Regions from separate parts of the Homo sapiens genome. Here regions 1, 2 and 4 are each linked to region 3. The links come from fine-mapping of genetic effects on gene expression. A gene starts in region 3. Each other region holds a variant in brackets. All regions are shown on one strand. Distances are between the middles of the regions.

Region 1 (7,573 bases), 99 kb after region 3:
TGCCCTTAAGACCCTTGCAGGGATTCCAAAAGACAGAAGCTCTGAGAGTGAGCCACGGAACCCACGCCATGCAGAACATGCTTGTCAGACTAGAGGCTCCTTGATAACAAGCCACCAGAGCCCCTCCAGCTGGCCCCAGCACAAGGTGATGCGTATGTGCCAGGCACGAAGGGCGCAGTGGTCCTGCTGCGTTTGCCTACAGGGGCAGTGGCATTTGCCATCAAGATGGCCTTTGGTCTGTGTTTTTTAGGCCACTTCTTCCTTTTTATCGTTCTTAGTCTGATTCTTACCTATGGTGAATCAAGGTACTTAAATTTATTGGGAAAATGATTTCAGTATAACAAGTAAAAATTTCAGGAAGTTACCAATACAGGCCTCCTCCTCTTCCTCATTTGCCTCCTCGTCTTCCTCCTCTTCCTCCCTTTTCCTCCTCCTCCTCCACCTTTTCCACCTCCTCCTCCTCCACCTCTTCCTCTTCCTCCTCCTCCACCTTTCTCTTCCTCCACCTCTTCCTCTTCCTCTTCTTCTTCCACCTCCACCTCCTCCTTCTCATCCTGCTCCTCTTCTTCCTCCTTCCTCTCCTTTTTTGTCTCCTTCTTTTCCTCTTTGTTCTCCTCCTCTTTCCCCTCCTCCTCTTCCTCCTGCTCTTCCCCCTCCTTCTCCCTCTCGTCTTCTTCCTTCTCCACTTCTTTCTTCTTCATCTCCTCCTCTTTCTTTTAAACTCTTTGCCCTGAGAACATGTTACTCAGAGGCAGTGGGTTCAGTCTCCCTGGATGGACAGGGCACTTGATCCTTGTTTCTGATCCTTGCTAGGGGGAGGGGAAAGGCTCTGGTCCTCAGCTGGTGGTTGCTCTCTTCCCCTCCTTCCCCTTCTTCTCTCCGGACATCTTTTCTCCCCCTTTCCTTTTTTTCTTCTTGTCTGTACCAGATGTCCATGACAAATCACGCCCAGGCTGTGTTTATTTTCACAAATAGGCATCACTCATCTGACCATCCCAAATAGGTTCATTTTTCTTTGCATTATCCTTACAATGATAACCAGTTTAAATCCCCAGGAAGAAAGGACGTCTGAGGGGTTATCCTTCCCTTAGTGACGGAGAGCTTACAAGGCATCTGCTTCTCTAGGAGCCTCATCATCAAACTTCCTCTGTGATCATCATACAGTTTCATAGAACAGATCCTGCAGGAGGAAGGTTTAGCTCAGCAACATCCCTTTCAACTCACAAAGACGGGCTACAGAGAAGGAGAGGCTGTGCCTAGCAGGGGAAATTGTGCGTCCTAAGGCCGGGGGTCCACGGCTGAGCCTGGAATCAGGACATGGACCATGAAAGGTTTGCAGGCCATGGGAAAGGGAGTGGTTCCTGTCCTAAGGGCAACATAAAGCCACTGGAGTATTTTAAGCAAGGAAACAGCATGACTACCTCTGTATTTCATAAAGGTCCTGCTGGCCAATGTGATCATGGAGAGATGGGAGGAAAGCTGGGGTGTTGGGGGGAGACCAGGAGTCTTGCTTGCATGGAGCTAAGAGCAGTGGACCTGGGGACAAGAGAATGGATTAAAACATGGTCCAGAGATAGGACAGGCAGGCTTTTGGTCAATTGGATGAGGGTGCTGAAGTAGACACAGCAACCATGAATGACTTCCAGGTCTCTGGCTTAGGCAGATTAACTGGTGGTGCCATTTGCTGAGATATGGAACATGAAAAGAAGGACAGATTTGGGGAAGAGAAGGGATGAGTAGATATTGCACTTGTGCAGTTGAGGGGTCTGTGGGACATCCCACCAGAAGTAACTGGTCGGCAGCTGGAGCGAGAGTGTGGGGTTCATGAGAGAGCTGGGATGGTCCCTAAAGCTCTGGTATTGATGAGTTCTGAGTGTGTGTGGGATGAAAAGAGTTACTTATTAATAGATAGGCCCTGGAGGAGGTCAATATTTAACAGATGGACAGAGAGGCAGGAAGGCCTACATGGGTTACCAAACATGAGCATCTGGGGGGCTTAGGGGGCTAAAATCCCACGCAGGGGTATTATCTCTGAAACCAAGGGAAAATCATGTTTTGACAAGAAAAGTAAGTTGAACAAATTTGACTGAGAGGAAAGGTAAGACAAGGACTGAAAGTGATGAAGTGGTTGTTTATAACCTGGACAAGAGGCTCATGCCTGTAATCCCAGCACTTTGGGAGGTGGAGGCAGGCAGATCACCTGAGGTCAGGAATTCAAGACCAGCTTGGCCAATGTGGTGAAACCCAACTCTACTAAAAATACAAAAATTAGCTGGGAATGGTACCACGCACCTGTAATCCCAGCTACTCAGAAGGCTGAGGCAGGAGAATCGCTTGAATTTAGGATGCAGAGGTTGCAGTGAGCTGAGACTGCTCCACTGCACTCCAGCCTGGGCAACAGAGTGAGACTCCATCTCAAAACAAACAAACAAACAAAATAATAATAACCTGGGCAAGAGAAGTTTCATTGAGGTGGAGGGGCAGATGTTGGGGGATTTGGGATGGGGGCCAGATTGTGGCAGACTAAGAAGGATGTAGCAGGAGCAGCCCATGCAAATTGTGACTTCAAAGTGGAGCAGAGACTCCAGAAAGTAGATAGAAGATGAAGTTGGGTTGAGGGAGATTTAAAAAAAAAAAAAAATAGAGGCTGGGCACGGTGGCTCATGCCTGTAATCCCAGCACTTTGAGAGGCTAAGGCAGGAAGATCCTTTGAGCACAGGAGTTCGAGACCAGCCTGGGCAACATGGTAAAACCCCGTCTCTAAAAAAATACAAAAATTAGCTCGGTGTGGTGGTGCATGCGTGTGGTCCCAGCTACTCGGGAGGCTGAGGCAGGAGGATTGCTTGAGCCAAGGAGTTTGAGGCTGCAGTGAGTCAAGATGGCGCCACTGCACTCCAGCCTGGGCTACAGAATGAGACCCTGCCAAAAAAAAAAAAAAAAAAAAAAAGAACATTTTAACTTGAACATTTTAAAAGATAATGGAAAGATGCTGGGAGATGAAAGATGTGAAGTTC[A/G]GAAGAGAGGCCCTTCTCGATGAGGCAGAAGGTGCAGGTGGACGGCTTCCTCAGAGGGGGTGGGACACCTTGTCTGTCGTCACAGAAAGGAAGAAGGAAATAGGAGGGATGCAGCTGCAAGCCTGGGTGTTGTTCCGTGGCAGGAAGTCGAGGGGGCTCGGGGCCTTTATTTACTCTGGAAAATAGAAATCAAGACAGTCACCCAAGAGCAGGGAGGCTGTGGCCTGGCTGGAGCCCTGTGGCGGGAAGGAGAGGCCCAGGATGTGGCTGGAGGCCTGTGGAGGGAAGGAGAGGCCCAGGATGTGGCTGGAGGCCTGTGGAGGGAAGGAGAGGCCCAGGATGTGGCTGGAGGCCTGTGGGGGGAAGGAGAGGCCCAGGATGTGGCTGGAGGCCTGTGGTGGGAAGGAGAGGCCCAGGATGTAGCTGGAGGCCTGTGGAGGGAGAGAGGGGCCCGGGGCATGGCTGGGGGCCTGTGGAGGGAAAGAAGGGGCCCAGGGTGTGGCTGGAGCCCTGTGGAGGGGAAGAGGGGGCCGAGGCCTGGCTGGAGGCCTGTGGAGGGAGAGAGAGGCCCGGGGCATGGCTGGAGCCCTGTGGAGGGAGAGAGAGGCTTGGGGCATGGCTGGAGGCCTGTGGAGGGAGAGCAAGCTGAGCGTGGATGCAGGCACTGAGGAGGAAGCCTCCACCAGACTGCACAGCCAGGCTCTTCTGCAGCGCCCTTAGCCCTCCAGGCAGGAGCAGGTAGAAAGAAGGCTCCATCACGGGGTCCTGTGTGACAGGGAAACAAAGGGCCAGGGAGAGGTGCAGAGGGTAGTGGAAGTGGCTGATGATGGAAGCTATGCTGGAAGTGGAAGGAAACCAGGATAGGAAGGAACTCAGAAATAAGAAGAAAGCAAAGGTCTCAGAAGATGGCAGGTCCCACTGAAGCTGAAGAACCAACTGTGGAGGCTGGCGAGAGTGCAGCCAATAAGATCTGAGGGAAGAGACAAAGATCAGAAAAATGCATGTGAGAGTGGAGGGAGGGAGTAAAGGAAAGTGAGTGCCCAGAGGTGCAGACTGTCACGTCATGTGAGTTACTGGCCTTCATTTTGGATTTGCACTTCTCCATGGTCAAGGGGTTTATGTGGTTGAAATGTCTAGCCAACCACGACAAAATGCACAAGTTACTGCAGAAGAGAGGCTTATTTTTCTGGTCCTGGAGTTAAAGACTTTCTGCCGTGGCCTCCCAGTGAGAGACTCCAGGCCCCGTGGTGGACAGGGTCCCATCCACACTGCAACATTGAAGTCATAGCCAGGTGGTTTTTAAACAAATCTTTATTAAAGCTCCTCTATGTAGTTTAATCCATAGAAAAAATTCCTTTGAATTGATTTTCATTCGCCTTTTACAGATGGGCAAACAGGCTCAGAGAGGTTAAAAACTTGGCAGGCTGGTGAATGGCAGCTTGAGAATTAAACACAGACCTTGTGCCCACAGGTTTACAGCTCTGTCCGTTGCTGCTCCCTCAAGGCCTTCAATCAATGATTCGTTCAGCCTCTATATTTTTATGATTATTACTTAAAAATAGACCTTATTTTTAGAGCAGCTTTATGTTCACAGCAAAATTGAGAAGAGGGTACAGAGATTTTCCCTATACCTCCTCCCTCCACATATGCACAGCCTCCTCCAACTATCAACGTCCCTACCAGGGTGGCACATTTTTTACAATTAATGAACCTACATTGGCACATCACCATCACCCAAAGGCCAGTTTGCACTATGATTCACTCTTGGTGTTGTAAATCCTATGGGTTTGGACAAATGTCTAAGGACATGTATCCCCCATTATGGTATCACACACAGTGGTTTCACTGCCCTGAAAATCCTCTCCCTATTCATCCCTCCTCCTCACCAACTGATATGGTTTGGCTGTGTTCCCACCCAAATCTCACCCTGAGTTGCAATAATCCCCACGCATCAAGGGCAGGCCTGGTAGAGATAACTGAATCATGGGGGCAGTTTCCCCAACAGTCTTCTCATGGTAGTGAACAAGTCTTATGAGATCTGATTGTTTTATAAATGGGAGTTCCCCTGCACAAGCTCTCTCTTGCCTGCCACCATGTAAGATGTGACTTTGCTCCTCCTTTGCCTTATGCCATGATGGTGAGGCCTACCCAGCAATGTGGAACCATGAGTCCGTTAAACCTCTGTCCTTTATAAATTACACAGTCTCAGGTATGTCTTTATTAGCAGCATGAGAACAGACTAACACACCAGCTCCTGGCAACCCCTGATCTTTTTACTGTCTCCATAGTTTTGCCTTTTCCAGAATGTCGTATAGTTGGATTCATATGGCATATAGCTTTTTCAGATGAGCTTCTTTCACTTAGTAATATGTATTTAAGTTTCCTTCATGTCTTTTCATGGCTTGATAGTTCATTCCTTTTTTAGCACTGAATCATATTCCACTGTCTGGATGTTCCATAGTTTATTTATCCATGCACTTACAGAAGGACATCTTGATTGCTTCCAAGTTTGGCAATTATGAATAAAGCTGCCATAAACATTGGTGTGCATGGTTTTGTATGGACATAGATTTTCAACTCCTTGGGGTAAATAGTGTAAGAGTTGAAGAAAGAAGAAACACAGAAAGTGGCTCAATAGTCAAAGACAGATTTATTTTGGAGAATAAACCTGAGAAGGGCTTCTGGCCAATTTCAGTTAGGAGTGCTCTCTCTTACAGACTAAGGGTATTTAAGGGCTTTAGGGAGGGGGAGCTTATCACAGGCTCAGAATGTTTCTGTATGAAGGAGAGTTTTATTGTAGGTTTGGAATGTCTCTGGTTGGAGTTGGGGTTATCTCAGGGTTGGCATGTTTCTGGTCGGAGCAGGTTTTCTAAGGGTTGAAATGTTTCTGTTCATGCTGACATTAGCCATCAGGCTGATGTTTTGGGGCTGGATTTAGGGGAACTTAAAATGGCAGTGTTTGTCCAAGATGGCGATGCTCCTGATGTGTCAAATAGGAAGGGGCACAATTGCTGGATCCCATGGTAACTGTATATTTAGCTTGGTGAGAAACTGCCAAACTGTCTCCAAAGTGGCTGCACCATTTTGCATTCCCAGCAGCAGTGAATGAGAGTTCCTGTTGCTCCACCTCCTCACCAGCAATTTATGTTGTCAGTGCTCTGGATTTTGGCCATTCTAACAGGTATAATATAATAGTGTGTAGTGGGAACTCACTGTTGTTTAATATGTATTTCCATGATGATATATGAGGAGGAGCATCTTTTCATATGTTTCTTTGCCATCTGTGTGCTTTCTTTGGTGAGGTGTCTGTTCAGATATTTTGTCCATTTTTAACCAGGTTTTTTATTCTCTTATAGTTGAATTATAAGAATTCTTTGTATATTTTGGATAATGATTCTTTATTAGATGTGACTTTTGCTATGTTTTCTCCCAGTCTGTGGCTTGTCTTCTCATTCTTTTGACAGTGTCTTTCTCAAAGTACAAGTTTTAGTTCTAATGAAATTCAGCTTCTCAGTTACTTCTTTCATAGATCATGCCTTTGGTGTTATATCTAAAATGTCATCACCAAACCCAAGGTCATCTAGATTTTCTCCTATTTTTTATGGTTTTGCTTTTACATTTAGGGTCTATGATCCATTTTGAATTACTTTCACACAGGATGTATGGTCTGTGTCTATATTCTTTTTCTAAAAAACATGTGGATGTCCAGTTTTTCCTGTAACATTTACTGAAAAGACTAGTGCAGTGTTCTGATTTTTTAAATACCTTTTTCCAGAAGACTTCCTTCACTTTAGTCAAGAAAGGACATAACACCAACACACAGTTCCGGAAAAGCTGTTTTCTGCAGATAAGGCTAAACGGCATGATCTAATTATGTCTGATGTTCTGGGTCTGTCCTGGGATAAAATCTAGAGTATTGGTTCCCCAGACTGTACCACTGATTAAAATCATCTGGCACACGTCACTCCTGGCTCTGCTTCTGTGTTCTGCCTCTTCGCCGTGTTTCCAAGATCTACTCCTATTCCAAGGTCTTGAACACCATCTACTCACTCCTCAGTGACTTCAGCTGCACATAGACGCCTAGGACAGTGCTTGCCTTTATCACTCACATAGTATAGAATGTTTCATGATACTTGAAGCACAAACTCCTCTCTCTCCTACTGGAAAAGATAACTATCTCTCCCACTCAACTATGTTTCTTGGTGGCAGGGACAATATCATTAATTCTTTGTATTCAATACAATTCTTAGTACAGAACACACACCTTAATACAGCAGTCCCCAACCTTTTTGGCACCAGGGACTGGTTTTGTGGAAGACAATTTTTCCACAGACAGTGGAGGGGAGATGGTTTCGGGATGATTCAAGTGCTTTACATTTATTGTGCACTTTATTTCTACTGTTATTACCTTGTAATATATATAATGAAATAATCATACAACTCATCATCATGTAGAATCAGTGGGAGCCCTGAGCTTGTTTTCCTGCAACTAGACAGTCCCATCTGGGGGTGATGGGAGACAGCAACAGATCAACAGGCATTAGATTCTCATAAGGAGT
Region 2 (7,311 bases), 73 kb after region 3:
GAGTTCGAGACCAGCCTGGCCCACATAACAAAACCCCCTCTCTTGACTATTTTTAGTAAAATACAAAAATTAGCCGGGCATAGGGGCTCATACCTGTAATCCCAGCTACTCAGGAGACCTAGGCATGAGATTTGCTTAAACCCAGGAGGTAGAGGTTGCAGTGAGCCAAGATCACGCCACTGCACTCCAGCCTGGGTGACAGAGTGAGACTCTGTCTAAAAAACAAAAACAAAACAAAACAAAAAAACAACGATAAAGAAAAAGAAAGAAAACAAAAAAAAGTACGACGAAAAAAAATAAGACAGGAGATATTAATTCACGTAGCCAAGACTCAACTGTTTCTCTTTTTCCTGTGGATAAAACTGCAGAGAGGCAGTGATGAGAGAAAATCTACTCTAGCTCTCCAAATTTATACGACCCCATTTGTTGGTGTGGCGAAGCAAGAAGAGGGGTTATTTGGATGTGACGTGTTGTCATCTGGCGAATTGTGGGGTTCCTATTCAGAAACATCCCTGGAGAGTCTGAATTGTGGGCTATGGACGCTGCATAGAGCCTCGAATTCACATGATTAGTCTTATTATCATTTTTTTTGTCTTGTGGCTAGAGAGAGGAGCAAAATTATGCCCCGTGGGTTGCAAGAGTTGTTCAGTCATGAGATGTAGCAGGGACCCGGGATGGGAAAGGGTGGGGATGGGAGTAAAAGGCGAGAGAGAAACCAGGGGAAATCAAGGGCATGTTGCAAACCAGCTGATGTGGGGTGTTCTGTAACTGAAGGTGGTACTGTTACCCCATTCTACAGATGAGGAAACAAAAGCTCAGAGAGGTCTAGTAACTTCCCATGGTCACACAGCCAGTGAGGGAAGAAGTTGGGATTTGGAAAACATGATGTTGGAAATAACAAGAATAAGTGAAGACACTGAGAAGGATCAAAATCCAACATGAACTAGGTGGTGAGGACCAGCTTTGTAATTGAGGGGGGGCTCTTGTGGCTGATCCTGATGGGCAGTGTTCAGACGGCCAAAGTTTAGATTTTAGCTCTGAATTCTATCTATTCAAGCATACAATGCATGTCTTAGTAAGAATGGCTTCAACTGGTATGCTAACTTTTTAGGTCCTTTCATTTTATTCTGACAACAATCCTTGCGGGTAACCCAGTACCTATTTTAACACTTTGCTTCAGAGTTAGAAGTTTTTATGAATTGATTTTATGGAAGAATTTTTGTAAGTATGTTTAAATGTTATGCCCTGGTTATCAAACAAGACCCAAGCCTAGTCAGGCCTCTTAAGCATGGAGAGAGATGAGCCTTCTCAGCGATCTGCGCCTTTAAGGAGGGCTCCGCTCTCCTGTCTGCATCCCGGTGCTGCATATAAATGGCCTCTGTGGCTTCAGCCTGCTTATTTCCATTCAAAGTGTACACTCTGCTTTTTCCCCAAAGTAAAAGCATTTCCAGGAGCGCCAAGCACATCTCTTTTTTGTAGACTTCCTCTTGGCAGAGTGAATACTGCTGATTTATAAATTACATGGAGGTGTGCAAAGGAGATCAAGGTTCAGTGGATGTGAGCCCACATATGGCACCTCCCACAGGCCCAGACGCTGCCCTTAATTCTCAGCTCATCGCTTCTGCCAACCTTGTCAGTTCTGGCCACTCAAGCGGCACTCTGATCAAAGCAAAAGTAGTTGTCTTCCTCTTAGAAAAGAGGAAATAGGGTTCTTCCTTTTGCAAGTTAACATACTCAAAGCATCATTTCCCTTGTTGAATTTTTCCTAATCCTTATTTGAAATAGGCTCCTATGCCTTCATAGGGGGCCATTTTCATTGGCGAAGAAATTGTCCTCTGTTTTTTTGTTTGTTTGTTTGTTTGTTTGTTTTTACTATCAGATGCAGAACTCTATTTGAATGAAATCTTTATAGGAAAGAGGACATGCCTTCGATGACCACATTCCCCTCCCATAATCTGATGCTAGAATGCAGTGGAATGCACATTGCTTCTCATCACAAATAGCCACTGAAAAGGAGAAATTCTTGGCATTGTGGACTCACTACTTCCTGTGGATAATTACTAGAAATATACGCGTGTGCATGCATGTATGTTGTGTATGTGCCTGTCCAACATGCTGGGTCAAACTTTTGGATCTTTGAATCATACTGACTATGTGGAATACAAACATGATACCGCACCCTGTGGATCGTCACAGTCTCCCTGTTTCTCTCGGCAATGCTGGCTGGTTGTCTCACCAGTTAATGAATGAAAGAAGAGGGAAAGGGAAGGAAAGGGGATGAAGAGGAAGAAGAGGAGAGATGGCAGGAAGCTCTGACATACACAGCCCCACTCACTGGCTCACTTTCCAGCCTCTGCTGTTATTCCTTCCTTCTGGGCTCATACCCTGGGTCTCCAGCCAACTGGTGATGAGAGTCCAGGGACTTTACTGCCTTTTCACCTGTCTGGTGTCTCAAAACAGAGAACTGCAGCCCAAGACCATTTTACCTTTGCAGTAGAATGTGAGAATTAAAACTGATCTCGGCTGGACACGGTGGCTCACGCCTGTAATCCCAGCACTTTGGGAGGCTGAGGCGGGTGGATCACCTGAGGTCAGGAGATAGAGACCATCCTGGCTAACATGGTGAAACCCCATTTCTACTAAAAATACAAAAAATTAGCCGGACATGGTGGCGTGTACCTGTAATCCCAGCTACTCAGGAGGTTGAAGCAGGAGAATTCCTTGAACCTGGGAAGTGGAGGTTGTAGTGAGCCGAGATCACGCCATTGACTCCAGCTTGGACAACAAGAGCAAAACTCCATCTCAAAAAAAAAAAAAAAATACTGATCTCAATTCAGGCAGGCTCTGTGGCTCACACCTGTAATCCCAGCACTTTAGGAGGCTGAGGAGGGAGGATCACTTGAGGCTAGAAGTTTGAGACCAGCCTAGGCAACAGAGCAAGACCCCATATCTACAATCAATAAAATAGAAGTTATCTCAATGCAATAGACGTGAGGAACAGCATGGTGGGACAGATCAAGTGATTTTTTTTCCATGGCCATCAGGACCAGGACAAAAAGCCTGTTCTTTGGACTTCCTCAGTCCTGTGTGACACCAGACTCAGGCTGCTTCTTCTCACCCCCTCTTAGCTCACCCTGGCCTCAGCAGCTTCATCCTGGCCTTGGGGACACCTGTCACACAGGGTGGGGACAAACACCACCATATTTACAGACACACCACAGCAGTGGTTTCCAACCACGGGTGATTTTGCCTCCTTGGGAGATTGTTCGCAATGTCTGGAAGTAATTTGGGTTGTCACAGCTCGGGGGAAGGGGTGTGCCACTGGCATCTAGTGGGTAGCAGAAAAGCCCCCTGCAACAGAGAATCATCCAGCCCCAAGCGCCAATAGTGCCGAGGTGGAGAAACCCTGAACTTCCCAACATCTCAAGGTTGTTTCGCCAAATCCAGAGTCAGATCTTCCCCGGGGTTGGTTTTGGAAGGTGCTTTTGCATATCTGTGGATGGTGAGAAGTTCTGAGACTGTGGGGACTGCTGGGCAGGGTGGAGGGAGAGTTAAAATATCTGGGCTGGAGAGTCCTGGCTCCAATCTTAGCCATCTGTGAGCTCAAGAAGCCACTTTCTGTCTCAGGCCTCAGATTGCACTGGAAGATATCTCTGCCCCAGTGTGGTCGGGGTTGTGGAGACTTGAAGCCGGTCCGGTGCAGCCCACAGAAAATGCTTTGGAAATGTCTGAGCACCTTAGGTGGGCTCGGCCGAGGCTGACATTTCGAGTACATGACAGTTATTGGCTTTCACACCACCTGGTCAGAGCCCAGCCCCTGTGTACAAGGACACCCTGACCAGCCTTCATCGGCCCGTTACCCACTCACTGCTCAACTCCACTCTGAACAGGTGGGGTGAGGTCTCAACACTCCCCTGCATATAGCCTGCTGCGTTCCCATATTCTCTACTAGCAACTATTTGTTTTACCTCCACGCTCTTTCCTCAACCCCCAATCTCTGTCTTCGTAACCATCAGGAACAATGTCTACGGTTCATCCACATCCCAGACCAGACACTCCATGATGGCAGAGCCATGGGCCCTGGACTAGTCTCCTCCTAGTGTGGCAGCAAATCCTCACAACCATGATGAAACCTTTCTAGTGACCACTCTGAAAAGGATGGCTCTCCTGCCCCATGTCATCCCCAGGCCCTGACCTGAGCCACTCCCCACGCATCTCATTCACGCCCTGTTGGTTCCCTGATACCCTCTGACTCAAATAACTCTTCTTGGAGGATCCTTGAAGTTTTTTGAGAATTGCTGTTCAGAATAAGTTATCTCTACTAGAAATGTCTTGAGGTCCGTGAATAGGCGTCTAGGATGCATTACGCATAGGAGATGCCCAACAAATATTTGCCACCTCGACTTGGTAAACAACAGGCCCAACAGATGTCATGGCATCGTATTTCTCTGTGTTGTAATTGGCGTATGTCTCAGGGGTGCAGTCGCTTTTTAGTTTCCGTCATTACTGCTACACGGATCTGTTTCTCACTTTTTCTTA[T/C]CACTGTTAGTTCCTTGCCATTTCACCAGAGAGTTATAGCAGAGAGGAAAAAAGAAAACAAAACTCAGAGAAAAAAAGGATGAGATGGAATCCAACCAAAACCTCAGTGCCACTGCTGACCCCAAATCTGAATTTAAAAAAATAAAATAAAATAAATAAAAAATTAAAAAAAAATTCTCTGGTCCAAAACTTTTAGTTATTTTTTTTCCATCCCTCAGAAACACTAACTTAGAAATTAAGTGGTAAGTGATTTGGCTTTTCTTTTATATATTTTAAAATATATAAACATGGACACATTCTTTGGGAGCTTTAAGTCTTTTAACTCAAAGGAGAATTAATTTCAGTAAACTGCCGTCAACGTGGTGGTTGTGAACGACAGTCTGTTTATGTGCAAAGCCGTACTTTTCCATTGAGTCTATTCTTTGAACTGATAAATCTCACCTGAGCAGAAACCACGGCCACAAAATGTCACAAGCAGAGAGCACAATGCTGCAAGCACTTAGCAGCTCAAAGTTTTTACACCTCGGCTCTACAGTAGCAGCAAGATTTTCACTAATTGTGTGGGGCCCCAGGATGTGTTTTGGTTTTGCAAGGTTTTTTGCAGACTCTGCCTTCCTGTTCCTCTGTCTCGGTGTGCTCTCACACACACACAATGCAGAGGACAAGCGCACGTCTTTACAATTCAAAACCAGAAAAGACCAGAACATTTTTAATTAGTCTGAAAATAAATTTAAAAAAATAGCAGCTCTGAAAGATGTGTTCCTCTATCTCTTTCCTCTGGAAGGCTGCAATTTAATATGTTTATGGGGAGAAGTGGTCCCTACAATCCCAAGAAAAGTAAGGGGGAGTTGGGGGAGTCTCAACCCAATTATTTGGCAGTCAACTTTGCCCCTCCAATAAATGAAACTGCAAAGCTGTCTTTTACAGGATACCCAGGCACTGACAGCAAACTGCAGGACCACAGTTTCACATCCATTCCCTGGGGGCATGATTTAAACCCAGAAACCTGTCATCAGGAGGGAAGTGGAGAGCGGCTCCAGGACTGGCTGAGAAGTGATGGTGAAGGGTTTTTGTCTCCCTTTCAACCCCGTAAACCTAAGTGAACCCGATCTCTGATTGATTATTAAACACTTCGCATTCAATGGCTGAAGGACAGTCTACTCGTTAAATCAGTGATTCTTAGCAGAGCTATTTCTGCTAGATGATATTGTTGGGTGCTGGGAAGGAGGTGCCGATAATGAGAAGGAAGTAGCCATCGCAAGTTGGCAAAACTCCCGAGGAAGTTTAAAAAAAAAAAAATAACTTCCGTCAGCATCATTGCCTGCAAAATGGATGCCATTCTTTTTGAGATTAAGGAATCCAGTGAACAAACACAAGTCAATCACATTTACTACGGAAAACAATTACTCAATTCAGCGAGAGGAAGAATAACATCTACCGGAGTTCTAGCCTTCCATTCTGAAGGGGCATGGAGAGGGGACGAGGTTTCTTCCTCATCTCAGATGGATCCTTTGCAGAATTCATGCTAATGAAGGTTAACCTGTTTCTCTTTATCTCTGTCATGAGTTATTAATGTCTGGTATCAGTTATTTGCAAATTTTAAACTATTTTGCACAGCAGCACCTAACACCATGGTATTTTGTCTAAACAGGGATTTCTTGGTCTTCACAGCACACTTGGTGTGCCTACGGAAGGCGTCATCGTGGTTATTTACAAGATGTGTTTTCTTTCCATTTTTACGGTTTTTATTTTTCCCCCACTTCACTCGGAATAACATCGTCTCCTGTCTATCTGGGGATAAAAGATGATTACCTTTTTGTTCAGAATCCACTAAACTAATACACTTCTTCTGTTTGTTGCTAAGCAACCAAGCTGGGTTACCCGGAAGCAGCAGACTCCGCTGTCAGTCACCGGCTCCTTTCTGATAATTGACCATCAGAGAGTTTGCCTGGTAGGGGGAAGAGCTCGTAGTCAAAAGACTTTAGAAATCTTTTTAAAAATTCAGCTATCCAAAGGTTTGCCAAAGCGTTCTATCCTAGACAAACAAATGATGGCAAACGCACCTAATAGGTTACTAATCGGTAATAAAAGGAACGGTACGCCACACACAGGAATTGGGATGAAACTCAGATGCATTGGAAAGAATCCCAACACAAAAGAGTCCATCCTAGGCATTCTAGCTCATGTCTGTGAAACTCTAGAAAAGGCACATCGAATCTAAAGAAACAGAAAGTGAGGAAGGGCTGCCCGGGGCTGGGAATGGGCATCCCTAGAGACAGGGTGAAAGGAACTTGCGATGGTGGAAATGCGCCATCATCTACACCTTTATTTTATTTTTATGGATTTAGCGGGTACAAATGCATTTTAGTTACTTGGATAGACTGCATAGTGGTGAAGTCTGTGCTTTTAGCGTAACCATCACCTGAACGGTATAAATTGTACCCAATAGGTTATTTCTCATCCCTCACGCCCCTCCCAACTTCCCACTTTTTGGAGTTTCCAATGTCTATTCTTCACTCTGTCTGTCCATGTGTACCTATTGTTTAGTGAGAACATGCAGTATCTGACTTTCCGTTGCTGAGTTACTAAAAATACGGAACGCATCATGAATTTGCAAGTCATCCTTGCACGGTAGTCATGCTAATCTTCCCTGTATCTCTGCAATTTTAGTATATGTGCTGCTGGAGGGAGCACCCCATCATTTATATATTAATTGTGGCTGAGATTGCACAGATACAAATCAAAATGTCATTTAAATGGATACCTTTTATT
Region 3 (7,156 bases):
AGCTTTATGATGAAAACGAAACAGGGAAGAGTCAGGAACCTTTTCTGGCTTTTTAAAAGTCTTGACTTTTAAGTCAAGAATCGTGAAGCCAGTTATTTATAACAACCAATGTTAAAAAAAATAGTCTATAATGTCTGCAAGAACGCAGGAAGAGGAAAAACTCTGCGATGTATGACTTCCATCATTACTGAAACGCATCTCCAGCAGGACCTGCTGTTTGAGGTTCAGGATGGATGTATCCCAATGGGAAATGGGAAACAGTTCCCACCTCAGCAGGCCTCCACCGGCACTTCTACAGCAACACACATCAGAACAGAGTGGATGACCACTCTCTATTCCAGGATGGGGGCTGCGAGACCCCCGGCTCGGGGCAGTGTTCTGCACCGGCCCAAGAATGGGTCCTGCAAGCAGTAAACTCTTTGGTGGGGACCTAGAGGGTTGGCGGGGGGGGAGGGAAGTGGAGAAGTGCGTGGGTGTCTCCCACTCTCTTGCAGGCAGGCAGCTTGGTCCCAGCAAGAGCAAAGATAAGATCTGAGACGGTATTTATTTATGGAAGGGAGAAAGCAGAGTGTGTGCAAATTTAATGCTTAGTAGGGAAAAAGCAGGAGACCTCCTATCTCCAGGGCGGGCCTAGGGAACAATTCCTGCTGAGCAACAACGCCTCTCCCCTCCCCCACCCCACTTACCCGCTCAACTCCCTCCCCACCCCCAACAGCCTCCCCAGGAAACGAGGCCACATTTAAGCCTGTTTTCTCCTTTTCTCCGACCTGCTGGAACATGGGTTCTTTCCCTTGGTGTAGACACGCTAGTAGGTCTCCCAGTTCCCTTCTCTACGGTGCAAGAGTGGAGGGGGGATGGAGAGTGGTGGGCAGCGGCAACCGAGCCAGATCCAAGAGGGGTCGGCCTCGTCTAAATTGGTTTCCCACCAATGGCCTCGGATCAGCCGCGGCTGTGCTGCGGGAGCCCTCAGGACGCGGCTGGGGTTGGTGCGCGGGGCCCCGGAACCCCAAACCCGGCTCGGTTCGGCAAGGTTCAGGGAGACAAGGTAGAGAAGGCTGGGGTGAGCGAGAAGTCGGGCGGCCGATCGTCAGGGCCACGAGCCTCGCCTTGCCTTCTTGGAATCCCACCCAACTTTAAAGGCCCAAAGATCCTGAAAATTCCGAAAGCGAAACTGCGAGCTGGTCTCCAGAAGTTTGAGAACGGTCTCCCAGGCTTTCCAGCGTCGTCCCGGGATTCTCGGACACCACAAACGCCATCAACCACGAGCACCGGTGTCCGTGGCTATTGCCCCGAATGGTCCCCATCCGCGTCCCCGGGAACTCCCTCGGCTTTTCGCGCATCCAGGTCCCCAGCCCCAGCTACTGGTGCGCCCCGAGCCCCTAGGTGCCAGAGCGGTGGTCGGCCGGGCTCCTGCCCAGTCTCGGCTCCTCCCTCCTCCCCACCAGAAGGAAAAACTTGGGCCCTTCGAGAACCCTGTGGAATGTTCTTTGTAATCAACTGTACATCCGCTTCCACGGCACGGCCTCGTGCAAAATCGCGGGTTTCGGGGCCTTGGAGCAAATTGCGCTTGTCAGCGGCGACGTCAGGAGGACAAGGGGAGGGGTTCGCGGCTGAAACTGCAGCTTCGCAGCACAGAGCCATTTTAGGCTGCTCCCCACCTCGCGGGGCCCATGGGAAAGCCGGCCCCGGGAGGGCGCGCCCAAACGCAGGCTGGAGGAGCCACGGACGCGTCCTGGCCGGCGTGTCGCCATCGTTCAGCCTCGCTGCCCAGGTGGGAGGGGTCACCTGCCGCGGGGTCTCCAAGCCAGTGCCGCTTGCTCCCGGCCCCCACCCACTGACAGCACGGCGTCCGAGTGACCCTGTCTAGCCTCGTTCTGCGCTCCTGCAAACCACGTTGCTGCGCTAACTACAAACCTGGCCAACATGTCTTTGTAACCCTATCATTTAAAAACGCTTCCAGGCACCTGGCCGCTGCCAGATCAGGTTCGCGGGCCCGGAGGAGGTCCTCCCACCTGCCCCCGCCAGCCCCGGGGACCGTGCGCGGCCTCCGTGTGGCCCCCGCCCACGAGGTCCCTCGGGCAGGAACCGCCGCGCGACCTCTGTTCAGCGGCCGCGTCCTGGCCACGGGCGACCCCTGTCGGGAACCCTGTTCCCGGCTAAGCTGCGTTCCCGCATTCCGGTGGCTCTCACCCGAGCTCGCGTTTGCTGGCTTTCCCTCTGGCTCCTCTGCCTGACCCCGATTTTGTCTCCGAACTCCACTCCCAGATCCTCCCCGCCCTGGAACGCCGACCTTTCCCCCGCACTTCGCCGCCCACTCACATCCCCCGGCGACTGCCCGGCCTCCATGCCCGCCAAGACAAGAAGATGCCCCTCTCCGATGCGCCGAGAGGGTTCCTAAGCCGAGCAAGGGACAATTTCTTCCCCAAACGCTGTCCCCATCCCCCACCTTCCCTAGAGCGCGAAACCCAAAAGTAAGGAAGGCAACCCCTCGCCTCGACCCTACGTGCTTGTCTCCCAGAGCCGCGCGCTCCCGCCCTTCTGCCCCACCCCACCACCACCACCACCACTTTGGTCTTCTCCAAGCTTCGGTCCCGGTCCCCCACCTCCCACCCCAGAGCGGCGTGGAGGAAAGCAGGAGCCCACTATTAAGTGCAGCGCGCCCCCTGCACACACGAAATCCGGCTGGCGTCTGCAGCCCGATTGCACCCAATACCCGGGACAGTTAGTCCTTTTAATAAGCACCTCCTCGCCCCACCTACTCGGGGATCTACCCGCGCAGGATCCAGCACACACAAGGCGAGAGCTAGCTCGTCTCCTAGAAAGACAAAATAAATCACTCCCTCTGCCCTCATGTACTTTACACCACGTGTCCGCAGTTTGTCACGTCAAATCATGGCAGGGTCTGGTTCCAAGACGCACACACACATTCGGGGTGGTTCTCTTTGACACACACACCCAAAAAAACTGCGCACACGCAGGCCTGCACACTAATCCACAGGCACACACGACAGTTGCGTTTCGGTGCCCTGGTCCGGGCCAGGGGCACTTCTCCATCCCTTTCCCCCCTAGCAATGGACTTGACACACAGACTCTAACCACGGAAAAAAAAAACCGGACAGCCCATTCCTTCTTTTTTTCCCCACTTAATTCGCTAAAGCGCTTCCTGGGGTAGCCAAAGAGAGTCGAAACTAAGGGGTGGAAACTTCAGCTGGGTTTTTTCCCACCTCAAAACCTTTATTTTCAGTTTTTAAAAGCCACCTTAGCCCGCCATATTGAAACTGGCACGGTTTCTAAAGACTCCTTCCCCGCAGTTGTGGCGCTTCCAAGAAAACACGAGTACGGATCAGGCTCTGGATGAGTGTCCGGCCACCGAGAATCAGCCACTTCCCACCCTCCAGGATCCCCCAGCTCCCTCCAGCCCCTTCCCACCGCCCCTGGTCAAAATCAATAAATACATCTCGCAGTTCCTACAGTTGCATTTTGGCGGATTTCTGCAAAACATACACACACATACACATACCCACGCACGCATATTAAAAAATAAACTCCAGAACCAGCTCAAGTCAGCAATTTTGAAAGGGGGTCGAATAAGAGGAGACAACCGGAAAGCCCCTAAGTGACAGGATATTACTTTAAAGAGAAAATAATGAACAAAAAGACCATCCTCGCTGGAGCACGCTCCAAAACTACTACTGCCAATTTTATTTCAGTTGCTCAGGCAAATGTTTCCAAGGGAGCGATTCCGAATGTCTGCACGATTTTTACCCCCATGCCGGTCTCCGATTCCCCGTCCTCACCATCTTTTTCTCCCACCCAAACCAAAAGAAAGGGGAGACCCCAGCGCGGAGGAGACGCGGGAGCGCGGGGTAGGTAGCAGCGGCGGCTGCGTCGCTAAAATGAGTGCAGAAACGAGGAAGGTGGGCGGCGGGAGGGGACAGGCTGCGCCCGGGGAAGGAGGACACTTTGCAACTCCGGACGGACTCCCGCACGGCTCGGCTTTTCCGAGCCCGGAGACGCAGGCGAAGGGGACCCGGGAAGCAAAAATGACAACCTGGAGCGCACAGAGGAGTTTGAAGCTTCGCTCAAGTGCAGTCGCTTTCTTCTCCTGCCCTTCTCTTTCGCTCCCCTGCACCCTCCCCAGCCTTCCCCCACCCGCCACCTCCAACCCCAGCTCCCTCAGGCTTCCTTCCTTTTTTTTTTTTTCCTTTTTTTTCCTAGGCTGGAAAAAGCCCCTGACCAGCGCACTCAACCTGCGGGCCGAAGGGCTGCTCTCCGGCCAGCCTGGGCGCCGGGGACAGCAGCCGGCGCGGCGTCCTACCTGGTGAAGTTCGTCCTGCCCTCGGCGTGGACCCAGGCCCCGGTCGCCGCCCGGGAGGGCACCGGCCTCGCTCGCTTGCTCGCTCGCCCGCCCTTGCCCGCTCGCTCCCCGCCCGCCGCCTCCCTCGCGCGCCCGCTCCGGTCCTCCGGCTCCCACTACAGCTCATTCCAATATGGCATCCTCTCTGTGCGCATGCTCGGCGCTCTTTTTTTTTTTTTTTTTTTTTTTTTTTTAAGATTTTGTGTGTGTGTGTATGTGTGTGCGTGCGCGTGCAGCGAACTCCTTCAACGACCTTTTCCAGCGCTTGCAAAATTTCTTAAGCCAATTAGCCTGCGGGACGTGATCGGCTCCTTCCCCAGCCAGCTCCGCGCCATTCCCTGCGCCTAAGCAGGCGGGCACCCCCAGGACCCTGGGACCTTCCACGCCCACGCGGCCTCCTCCCCACCGCGCTCCCCTTCCTCCTTTTTGTGAGCTCCCTCCATACATGATCTGCAGAAAGTTCCCATCGCGGGCGTTTCCGCACACCCCTCCGCAAGGACAACTGGGCAAACTCCCGTTTCCCTGGCTGCGGTTCGTGAGCTGGGTTTCCAATGGCTCAGTCGACCGTGTGCACAAACTTGCGCTTTATCCGCCGGGGATCGCTGGGAGCGGAGATAAATTCAATCCCCAGGGCAATCTTGGCCCCGCCCGCCCCACCCCATCCTGTGCTTAAATAGAGCCTTTCTTGAAGCTGCGAACATTTCCAGGCCCCTTGGGCAGGGCTGGAGGGGCCGAGGAGAGCTATTCGAGGGAAAGGTGCCCCGAGGGGCAGGAAATTAAGTTGGGGCTGCCCGGGCGAGCTGCCAGGTAGCCGTGCTCGCCACGGCGTCTCATGGGGCACCTAGCTAGTGGCGGGCCTCATAGGGCGGGAAAAGAATCGTCGCTCACACCCCAGCAAAACGTGGCCCTCGACGGTCCGTTGGAGAGCCCCGGCGGCCGTGAGCCCCGGGCAGGGCTGGACGTCTGCGGAGCCCTCGGGCACTTTGTCCCGGGCGCCTGGGGAGGAACGCGGAGCTCCCAGGGCCTTAGGTGCAACGGCTGCGCAGAGCCCAAACGAAATGTCCCCAGTGCGGAAAAGCCGGTGACGCCCTGGTAGCAAGACCAAGAGCTTCCGAAGAACGCTGCGCCCTTAACTAGGGGGCCTCGCAGAGATGCCTGTGTGGGCCTGCATTGTATATTTCTGCGAAATAGCGAATGGACACGTTTGCTCAGGGTTTTTATGGTTGCCAAAGGGGGTAAAATTACCCAGTCCCCCAAATCTGTGTCCCATGAATCCCTCTCATAGTACCCCTCTCCAGGGGGCCAAGAGGTCCTCCAGGTCCCCGTGGGTTCGCAGCTCCACCCGCCCTTCCTCGCCCTGCATCCCTAAGGAGAGGTGTCCGCTCTGAAGGGCTAGGGGCCAGCCATGGAGTGAGGGGACCGGGGCTGACCACGCGCGGCACAGACAGAGGTCCTCAGGCGGGCCCTCTCCTGGACGGTGGGGCCGGAGCTGATCTAGAAGAAATACGGAGGGACGTGCCGAGAAGCCGCTCTCCTTCGCCGCGACCCTGGAGAGCGCCTCTCCACCCAAAGGATCTGCCGAGCTGAGAGATCCAGGGCGGGCGTCCGCAGCCGTGAGGCCCCCTGCGCCGCCAGTATGGGAAGATCCTGCCTCCTTACACCTTGGAGAACGCTGGGCGACGACTAAAGCGCCTTCCGCCGGCCTGTCACTCCATGTGACACAGGAGCCACGTGAGACCCAGAAGAGTCCAGCGACTCGCCGCGCGGCGCACTTTAAACTCTAGCCTGAGTCTGCGACCCCTCCAGCTCTCCAGTCCCCAGCTGTTGGGGACATCAAGCCGGAGCCCTGGGCTCTCTGCCCTGTGGGTCGCTGAAAGCAGAGACTCCTCAAACCAACCGAACCGGGCGCATTAACCCTCTCGCCTGCACCCCGCTGCCTCCCGGTTGAGCCCCGAGGCGGCTCCAGGTAGAACCTGCTGGACTGACTGCGGCGTCCAGAAATCTGGAGTGTGGGCTCCAGACACTCTCCACGGTTTGGCCCCGGGTCTCAACACCCAAGTCGCCTCTTCTGGCTCCTTCACCACACAGCGGGGCCTGTGGAAAGGGAGGGGCCGAGAGACCCGTCGGCGCACCACTGTCCTCGAGGGGTCCCCACCCTGTGCACTGCTGAAGCGCAGGGCGCGCCGCGGCAGGAATGGCCCCGAGTGCGGATCCCCTGCCCTGAGCCTCCCACTCTTGGCCCGCGCTGCGCCTACCCAGTGGCCCTGGCCCCGCAGGGCGACAGCGGCTGCTCCCTCCCATTTGCGTCCCAGACCGCGCGGCCTCGCTTAGCTCCCGGGAGCCGACAGGCGCTTGCCCTGGTGCCAGCGCAGGGCTTCCCGGGGGCTTGGGGTAGGGGTAGGGGTGCGGGGGGGAAGGGGAGAACGTAATTTCCTTCTGCAGGAGTCGTGGAGACGTGAGCTGCAACCAGCCACCGCGCTCTCTCCAGGCTTGTTTACCAGTTTTAGGTCATCATTGTGCACGAAACATTCTTTCATCCAAATAAAAGCAAATGCAGAAGAACACCTGATCCCAAACAGTGTATGACTGCGTTCATTATCTTACCTGGTTACTCCGAAGGAGTTGAATTTTTTTAATGTTTTGGGTACGTAGACCCCGTATAATTTTGCTCCTGGGTCCACAAAATGGTGATTTTGGGGGAGGGTTACCTATCGTGATTAAGAAATATAATCAGGAAGTCGCAGCACACAAAGGTGGCATTGTTATTGTAAAAAAAAACTCCTTCCCTCCTATTTTTGT
Region 4 (7,320 bases), 220 kb before region 3:
AAAGAAGAGTTAAGACAGTCTTTTTATTTTCCCTCAAGAAGATTCTGTAACATGCTGAAAAACATATTTAAATGTCTCTAGATGCAGAGAGGTGGAGGGCTTTTTTTTTCCTTACCCCTCTAAGATATAGCCTAATTCCTCCTCCTGTAATTCAAAACAATGCAGGTAAATTGAGCATATTTAAATTCATTGGCAAGAAAGAAATTTTCTCTTCCAGAACAGAAATGAACTACATGAGAAGCCATTTTTTTTCCCTGGCATAAAAGCTAGCAAATTTTTGCTTTTCAATACATGTTGAAGGTAATAATGATAGACTCCTCACAAGTTCAAATATTGCAATAATTTCTTTCTATAAAAGGTACGGTTGTTGGATAAATAGGGGAAAAATCACCCAGAGACAATTGTAGGTAACAGTGTAAGTTTTCGTTATATTTACAAGTCAAAACCTCTACAAAGACACCTTCATCCTCTCAAGTAAATGGGTCTTTACTCTTAGGAGGTGGAAAAAACAACCAGAAATCCTAGATGCCAAATGAGAGCAATCACACTGCCCTAGGGATAATCTCACATCCTCTCTTCCTGAAAACAGTCTTTATAATTGTGTACAACAGCTCCCATAATCAACCAAGAGGACTGAATGTCATATGTATATATGACATATATATACATACATATACACATACATACATACTATATATACACACACACACACACACACACACACACACACACATATATATATATATAAAAATATTTTATTTGTTGTAGAGACAGGGTCTTACTATGTTGTCCAGGCTGGTCTTGAATTCCTGGACTCAAGCGATTTGCTGCTTCAGCTTCCCAAAGTGCAGGGATTACAGTCATGAGCCACCACGCCTGGCCTGGACCAAATGTCTTGAATGTGAGTCTCTCCTCTTGTACGTTAATTTATTCATGACAGAAAACATGCCTTCCTTTCAGCTAAATGGGAAGATGCCAGCTCTCTCTCCTCCCATTTGCACCAAAGAAAATAGCAAAGTTGTCAAGATCTAAAAAGTTGTCATTTCACATCAGAAGGGAAGAGGTGACTCAACACACAGTATCAGAGCAGGAGAGCTCCCGCTGACTGTAAAGCTGTCATCATTAGCAGCTGCTTTGAGACGCTGCTATGATCTCGCACAGTTGAAACCCAGTTCAGACAGACATTTTCTCATTAGAAGTTGCTGTGTAAGAGTTTGCCATGGAACTTTTTGTCATATTTGATATAATAGGTAATATGCTGCCTTTACAATTCAGTAGAGCTGGGTTTCACCATGTCTGTTTTGATTGTATCAGGCTGGATTTAATAAAAAGCTCTGATCGACTTGGTAACATGAAAACTAGTGCAAACACTTGCAAAATGAACTTCCTCTCACTGTGGAGCGGGAGCGAGTTTCTGGCTTATTTAGAGGCAGGGAAGGTTTTAATGGGAGCTAAGATTTTTGTACTTTTATTATATCTGTGTCCATTAGGTGTACGTGGACTGTATTGAATTTTGCAGAAAAGTTTTAAAATAAGAAGGATTTCTCCATTATAAACACTTGCTTATGTTTTCTGCCCCCACTACTACTACAAACTTATAAGAAAATGTGCCACTACTGCTAATGATCTCTTTAAAGCAGAAAAATATGAAATATTAGAAAAACATGTTTTTCTCTGAGCTATAGGTGAAGCTCACTTAAATATTTCTTGAGAAAGAAGGAAATGATGAAATGTAGCAGCATCGTTAATTGGCCTGCCATTTTCTGCAAATAAACCCTCTTCTTATTTACATATATTCTCTTCCACTTTGGTGATTTGGCAGATTATGATTAGACCATAAATAAGTTTTACTGAATCTAAAACCCCAGAGCTGTTCAAAAATGACACCAGGAATGCTAAGTGGATTGCTGGCAATGAATGTTGAGTGTGGCACAATCTCTAAACATCTTCAGTCACAGTACTAGTATAAGTTAACTATAGAGGAAAATATTACCGATCATACAAATTATTTCATATTTCTCAATTTTCACTATGAATAGGGCAGGTGCCTTCTCTAAAGGAGGCTTAGATATCCTCTAGCCACTGAAAACTGTTTTACTCTTTTAAAAAAACATCATTTCTCAAATGTTACATCTCAATGACCATTAAGAAGTCAACTAGTAAAACCTATTCTATTTGAAACCCATAGATGAATATTAAAAGTCCTCTCAAGCACTCTAAACAATTATTCAACATAAAATTATCTTAGAAACGGATCTTTTTCTATGTGCCTAAACAACCAAGTTCAAGTACATTGATACGGCTCCTGCTCTCAATTTCAGAGGTCAAGAAACCTAAAGAAAGCAAAAATGTCACCTTTCCAATTAGCCTATTTCCAAATAAAAGAAAGTTACTTGACTCCACGCCAACCCAGATTTTGCTGCCATTTACTTAACCCAGACCAAACATGCACGGGTTCCTTTTATCTTTGAGAACTGTCAACTGCCAGAAAAGAGAGCATTTGCATTTAGCATAGTCTATATAATATCAAAAATGAAGAGCTGTTTATGAACATAGTATAATAATGATGAGGGATATCCTCTTTACAATTTTCCCCCTTTTGCTCAAATAACCTATTGGTCCTGAAACATACCAAGTTTTTATGATGCTGAATGTTTAGCATAATAAAATATTAGTTAAGGAAATCTCTACTTCACCTTAGGAATCCTAAGGCTTAAGGCAACGCTGTATGGCAAAAATGCCAAGAAATTTACGTGTCGCCCATAGAACTGCAGAACGAACGTCCTTCAGTTTGTTCCATTTCTCAGGGCTGTGTCACAAAGAGAAGTGGCAAG[G/T]TTCAAAGTAGCATGGGGAAGTATTACAAAAACCCTTGCTTTCCAGAATTGAAAACACTTACTTGGCCTTCAGCGTCTCTTCCTGGAAATTCCAGTGGGGATCTTCTACCAGCTGTAATTCTCTTAATACCCTTCCAGGCTTGTAGGCTGCGTTGATTATCATGCTAAGAACCTTTTGGGGAAAAAAATAAGCAGACTGAGCTGCAATTGCATTCATTCCTACTAACACAAGGATGCTTTGAAAACCACACCACTGACATTTAGGAACAGCTCGCCACTACACCCACATGAAGTGAAGAAACGTGATTAAGTCTGATAGAACACTTGCCAGGCTAACACTGAGTTGTTTCACCATCCATGGACAAAAAGCGTGGTAAAATACAATCTCTCTGGCTAGAAAAGTGTGAACCACTCTCTAGAGGGGGTGGCAGACTCCCATTAACTCTTCTAGTTGCAGAAAAGCTGAACCATTTTCACCAAAGAGCAATTTATTGTACTTCAACAGGATTACTCTTCAGTTGGATAGGCTACTGAGAATTTCATTCTATTTTTACAGATTTCATAAGGAACTAATGAAACGGAGACAATCTACTCATGCCAACACTTCTGGAGAGGCTTCACATGCTTGCAAGGAGGGTAACAAATTGTGTGAAACTCTCCTCTTGCAGGCTCAATTCATGGACATTTAATACTAGGGCAACCCTCTGAAATGTGAATATTTTAAAAGAGAGTCTGGAATATCCAGCGCCATCCAGTATCATATTTCCCCCATCCACCCCTCACTCCCAAGTCCAAGAAAACAAGCATGTGTCTACCATGGGGCTCAGAAAGAGCAGGCATTTCTAAGAGTTCCAGCTGCTGACCCTGGGGAGATACGATGTTCCTGTTAACCTCAATGAGTTTCTCTAATGAAAGGGACAAGGACCTCAGACCCCTAAGGTGCTCACCTTTCAAAAAGCAAATCATCATTAATGATTAACATTGATGAGTTCTGGCACATTCCTGGGCTGCTGCTGTTTGGATAAAGACCTTACAGAACGTGAGAGTGCAAAGCAGAGGCCTATGGTGTGGAGTTTCATGAAATGATCCTCTGTGAAGCTCCACTGAGTGACAGTAGCAGGAACAAGACGGGGGAGCACGCAGTGCCCATGCCTCCTGCAGGCCGTCCGGGTGCGGAAGTTGGAAGGAGCACGCCAGGCATGGAGCTCACATTTTGGATTTCAGAGCAAAATACCGTTGGGAGAGCAAGAGATACACCTGAGTGAGATGGGAGTCTGGCACTAGTGCCTAAACACGCACTATCTTTTAATGGAGACTATTACAAAATAAATGGAAGGAGATGGGAGAATGTGGATGGAATTTGCTTGTCACAATTTTCACGGGTCTGTTGTGTTCTGGAACGTAACCAGCTTGGTTTGCACCCTGATTTATTTGAAAACAACAAAGCTTTCTCAAGTTGTAACTAAGGATTCACTCTTAAAATACTTTACACTACGCGGTCAGCCCGGCGACGGCCTTTTCTCTGCCTGGGTAACATCTTGCTATGTTCCAAGGGCCTCAAAGCCACCCACCAAGAGAATGTGGCTTGCCAAGGTGCTAAAAAGCCATGACAAGGCGGTACCGGCAGTTTTGTTGCGTTTGTGTTTTCTGTATTAGAATAATCATCTGATTTTATTGTTTACTGTCAGTACAATTTACAGAAACTCAGTTTAAAAATAAATCTAATTAGTACTGACTGCAATAACGCACACAGTGTTTATCAACAGACAATAAAATTTCAACAGATTCTTTTCATTGGGTTTCGCTGAGAAAACCCCAGAGCTGCATGTTATTTGCTGCATATCGAGATGCATTTTGTGACTGCGAAAAGAAAATGCCTTCTGGAGTTCAATTCAGCCTGGGAGCAGGCAGCAATTAAATTATGAAAAGCATCGGATATTGAATGTTTTTCCCTTGGCTTTTCTTGATGCCACATCATCCGTCTCCAAATTCAACAAGCTCTCTATAAAACTTTGGAATTGTGAGCTGAATAATTTCTGTGCACATGACAATGTCATGTATTATAGTTACCTAATGAAAATAACTAAGTGGACAGCTGCTATGACTAGCCACAGTTAGACTGAATTATTGTGCTTTGCAAAACACTGGAGTTCAGTTCATTATGTGCTTGATCAGAGAGGGTAGCAGGGAGCCTGCCCCTGCCCCCAAACTAATAGGACCTTAGGTGTCTCATCTTCCTCCACTGATATGGTTTGGCTGTGACCCCACCCAAATCTCACCTTGAATTGTAGCTCCCATAATTCCCATGTGTTGTGGGAGGAACCTTGTGGGAGGTAATTGAATTGTAGGGGTGGTTTCCCCCATAATGTTCTCGTGGTAGTGAATAAGTCTCATGAGATCTGATGGTTTTATAAGGAGTTCCCCTTTTTGCTTGGCTCCCATTCTCTCGTCTGCTGCCATGTAAGACGTGCCTTTTGCCGTCTGCCATGATTGTGAGGCCTCCCCAGCCATGTGGATCTGTGAGTCCCTTAAACCTCTTTTCCTTTATAAATTGCCCAGTCTCAGGTATGTCTTGATCACCAATGTGAAAACGAACTAACACATTCCCCCACCTCATTTCTCAGCTCTTTTACAGTAAAATCCTTAAGAAGAGTCTACACTCAACAGCGCCTTTTCCTCTTCTTCAGTCCTCTCTGGAACCCAATCCAATGGGGCTTTTCTGTGTCCACAATGTCCCTGAAACTGTCTTATCCAGATGCCTGGTGAGAGCACATGGCCGAAACGCTGGGCAGCTCTGGGTCTATTCTCACCCTGCCGGCAGGGGCTTCCCTGTCTTCCACCTCACGCTCTGAGAGCCTCACCTCCCAACAACCGCCAGGGCGATCCTTTCAACAGGTCAGATCAGGCCTTTCCTCTGCTCTGTTCTTCTCTTAGGATTGTTCTTCCTGGGGAAACCCTTCCAGACCATCCCTCCCCATCCGGGTCTTTACTCCAAAGTCCGTATCAGAAAGGTCTCTGCGAGTATCCTCTGTACACAGCACATTCCTCCCTTCATTCTCTGGCCTCTCATGGATAACTTGTCTTATTATTAGTATAGGATTATTCCGTAATTGGCTTATTTGTTCACCATCCACCCCCACTAAGACATAAGCAGCAGGAAATCAGGGACTTCATTCTGTTTGCTGCTGTATCCATGGCAGATACAACCATAACTGGCAAGAGTAGGTGCTCTATAGATATTTTTTGAATTAGTTCAATAATTTCAATATGGGCTCTGAAATTAAATTATTCTGTTCATCTAAAAATTAACAATAAATTCACTCCAAGTATTTGATGCCATATAATCTACATGAATGGAGGCTCAGGAGTTATCATTTGCTATTGCTTTTCATTGCTACAAAATCTTATCCTATGCTATGATAAGAAAGTTCATCAAATTTATCTTGTCTTCTCTATGAGAAAATAATAAAGAAAAGCCTGACATGCAAAAAAAAAAATGTGCACTTTTCCTTTGCCAACCTTCCCTCAGCACCCCAGACCATGTGAGTGTGTTCAAGTTCACACCCACCCGTAAGCCTGGCACATTATTCTTAGTGGGTTAACTAATGTTCAGCATAAATTGAAAACAGCAGCAACAAAAACACAGCACAGTATCTTCAAGAGGCCTGTCTGCATCTGTCTTTGATTCCGAGGACTGACTTCGCTGAGGTCAGCTGGGTAAGACATTCCCTCTGTCCAATATCACATGGAAAAGTCCTCAATACGAGATCGTCATTCCTACTCCCTCAACACCTCCTCCCCTGGGTGTTACCGATAAACTTACGACTGCTTCGAAGAATGAAAGCTCTTCTCCTACCACCAAGTCTATGAACACTGAAGGCTGCTTGGGGCAGCCGACTTTCAGGATTCCGACCAGAAAGCTTTCTAGTTTTTAGGTACATGTTGTTGTGAGTGATAGCCCAGGACAAATGCTCAGAGCTCCACAATGAAGGGGAAATTCAAACAGCACATGACAGACTCCCCAGATGTGAGAACCAGACACCCCAAACAAAAACACGGAGGGAAATCGCTTAATGCATCAGCCACAGGGGCAGAAATCGAAACCGTAAATAACAGCTGAGGCCAAATCCCAAACCGCCAGGTCCCACTGGAAAGATCCCAAACTGCAGGTGACCAGGAGCCAGAGTCACCTGAGCCCTTTGGGGGTCGGAGGTCACATCACTATTTGCAGTGGGGCGTCTCTGACTCAGGGCCGGGGGTCCGGGGCACACCGCATTCTGGTTCAGGGGTGCCGCACTACTTCTTTGATTCTGCTGGTCTACGCCTTCACACCCAGTCTTTGGACCTCAGCTGAGTGCCCTGGTCTCACCAGCATCTCAGCAAACGGGGTGGAGAGTTACACTGGAGCAAAAAAACAAGCCCTGAGAAGCGCCTCATTGCAAAGCATCCTGGGTGCCAGGCTTCCTGGGGCTTTCTCTGAACTCTT

The links. PIP is the estimated chance that this variant, and not a neighbour inherited with it, causes the effect.
Region 1: its variant is fine-mapped to the expression of SFMBT2 in whole blood (TOPMed, PIP above 0.99).
Region 2: its variant is fine-mapped to the expression of SFMBT2 in whole blood (INTERVAL, PIP 0.99).
Region 4: its variant is fine-mapped to the expression of SFMBT2 in whole blood (TOPMed, PIP above 0.99).

The regions. Positions count from the first base shown.
Region 1 is chr10:7,504,873-7,512,445 of GRCh38, forward strand. No RefSeq gene overlaps it. Among named protein-coding and RNA genes, the nearest start is that of LINC02642, 36 kb to the left of the region's middle. The variant A/G (reference allele first, on the strand shown) is at 3,015.
Region 2 is chr10:7,479,577-7,486,887 of GRCh38, forward strand. It overlaps the pseudogene RNU6-535P. Among named protein-coding and RNA genes, the nearest start is that of LINC02642, 10 kb to the left of the region's middle. RefSeq lists an enhancer at 1,281-1,520. The variant T/C (reference allele first, on the strand shown) is at 4,540.
Region 3 is chr10:7,406,543-7,413,698 of GRCh38, forward strand. It overlaps SFMBT2 (Scm like with four mbt domains 2), which reads right to left and starts at 4,492. Exons shown (of 21, transcript NM_001387889.1): 1 at 4,319-4,492. RefSeq lists enhancers at 1,367-2,262, 2,310-2,389, 4,741-5,661, 5,662-6,581 and silencers at 1,810-2,149, 4,366-4,505.
Region 4 is chr10:7,185,728-7,193,047 of GRCh38, forward strand. SFMBT2 (Scm like with four mbt domains 2) reads right to left here. Exons shown (of 21, transcript NM_001387889.1): 16 at 2,897-3,006. It overlaps SNORD129 (small nucleolar RNA, C/D box 129), which reads right to left and starts at 1,057; the gene lies at 953-1,057. The variant G/T (reference allele first, on the strand shown) is at 2,835.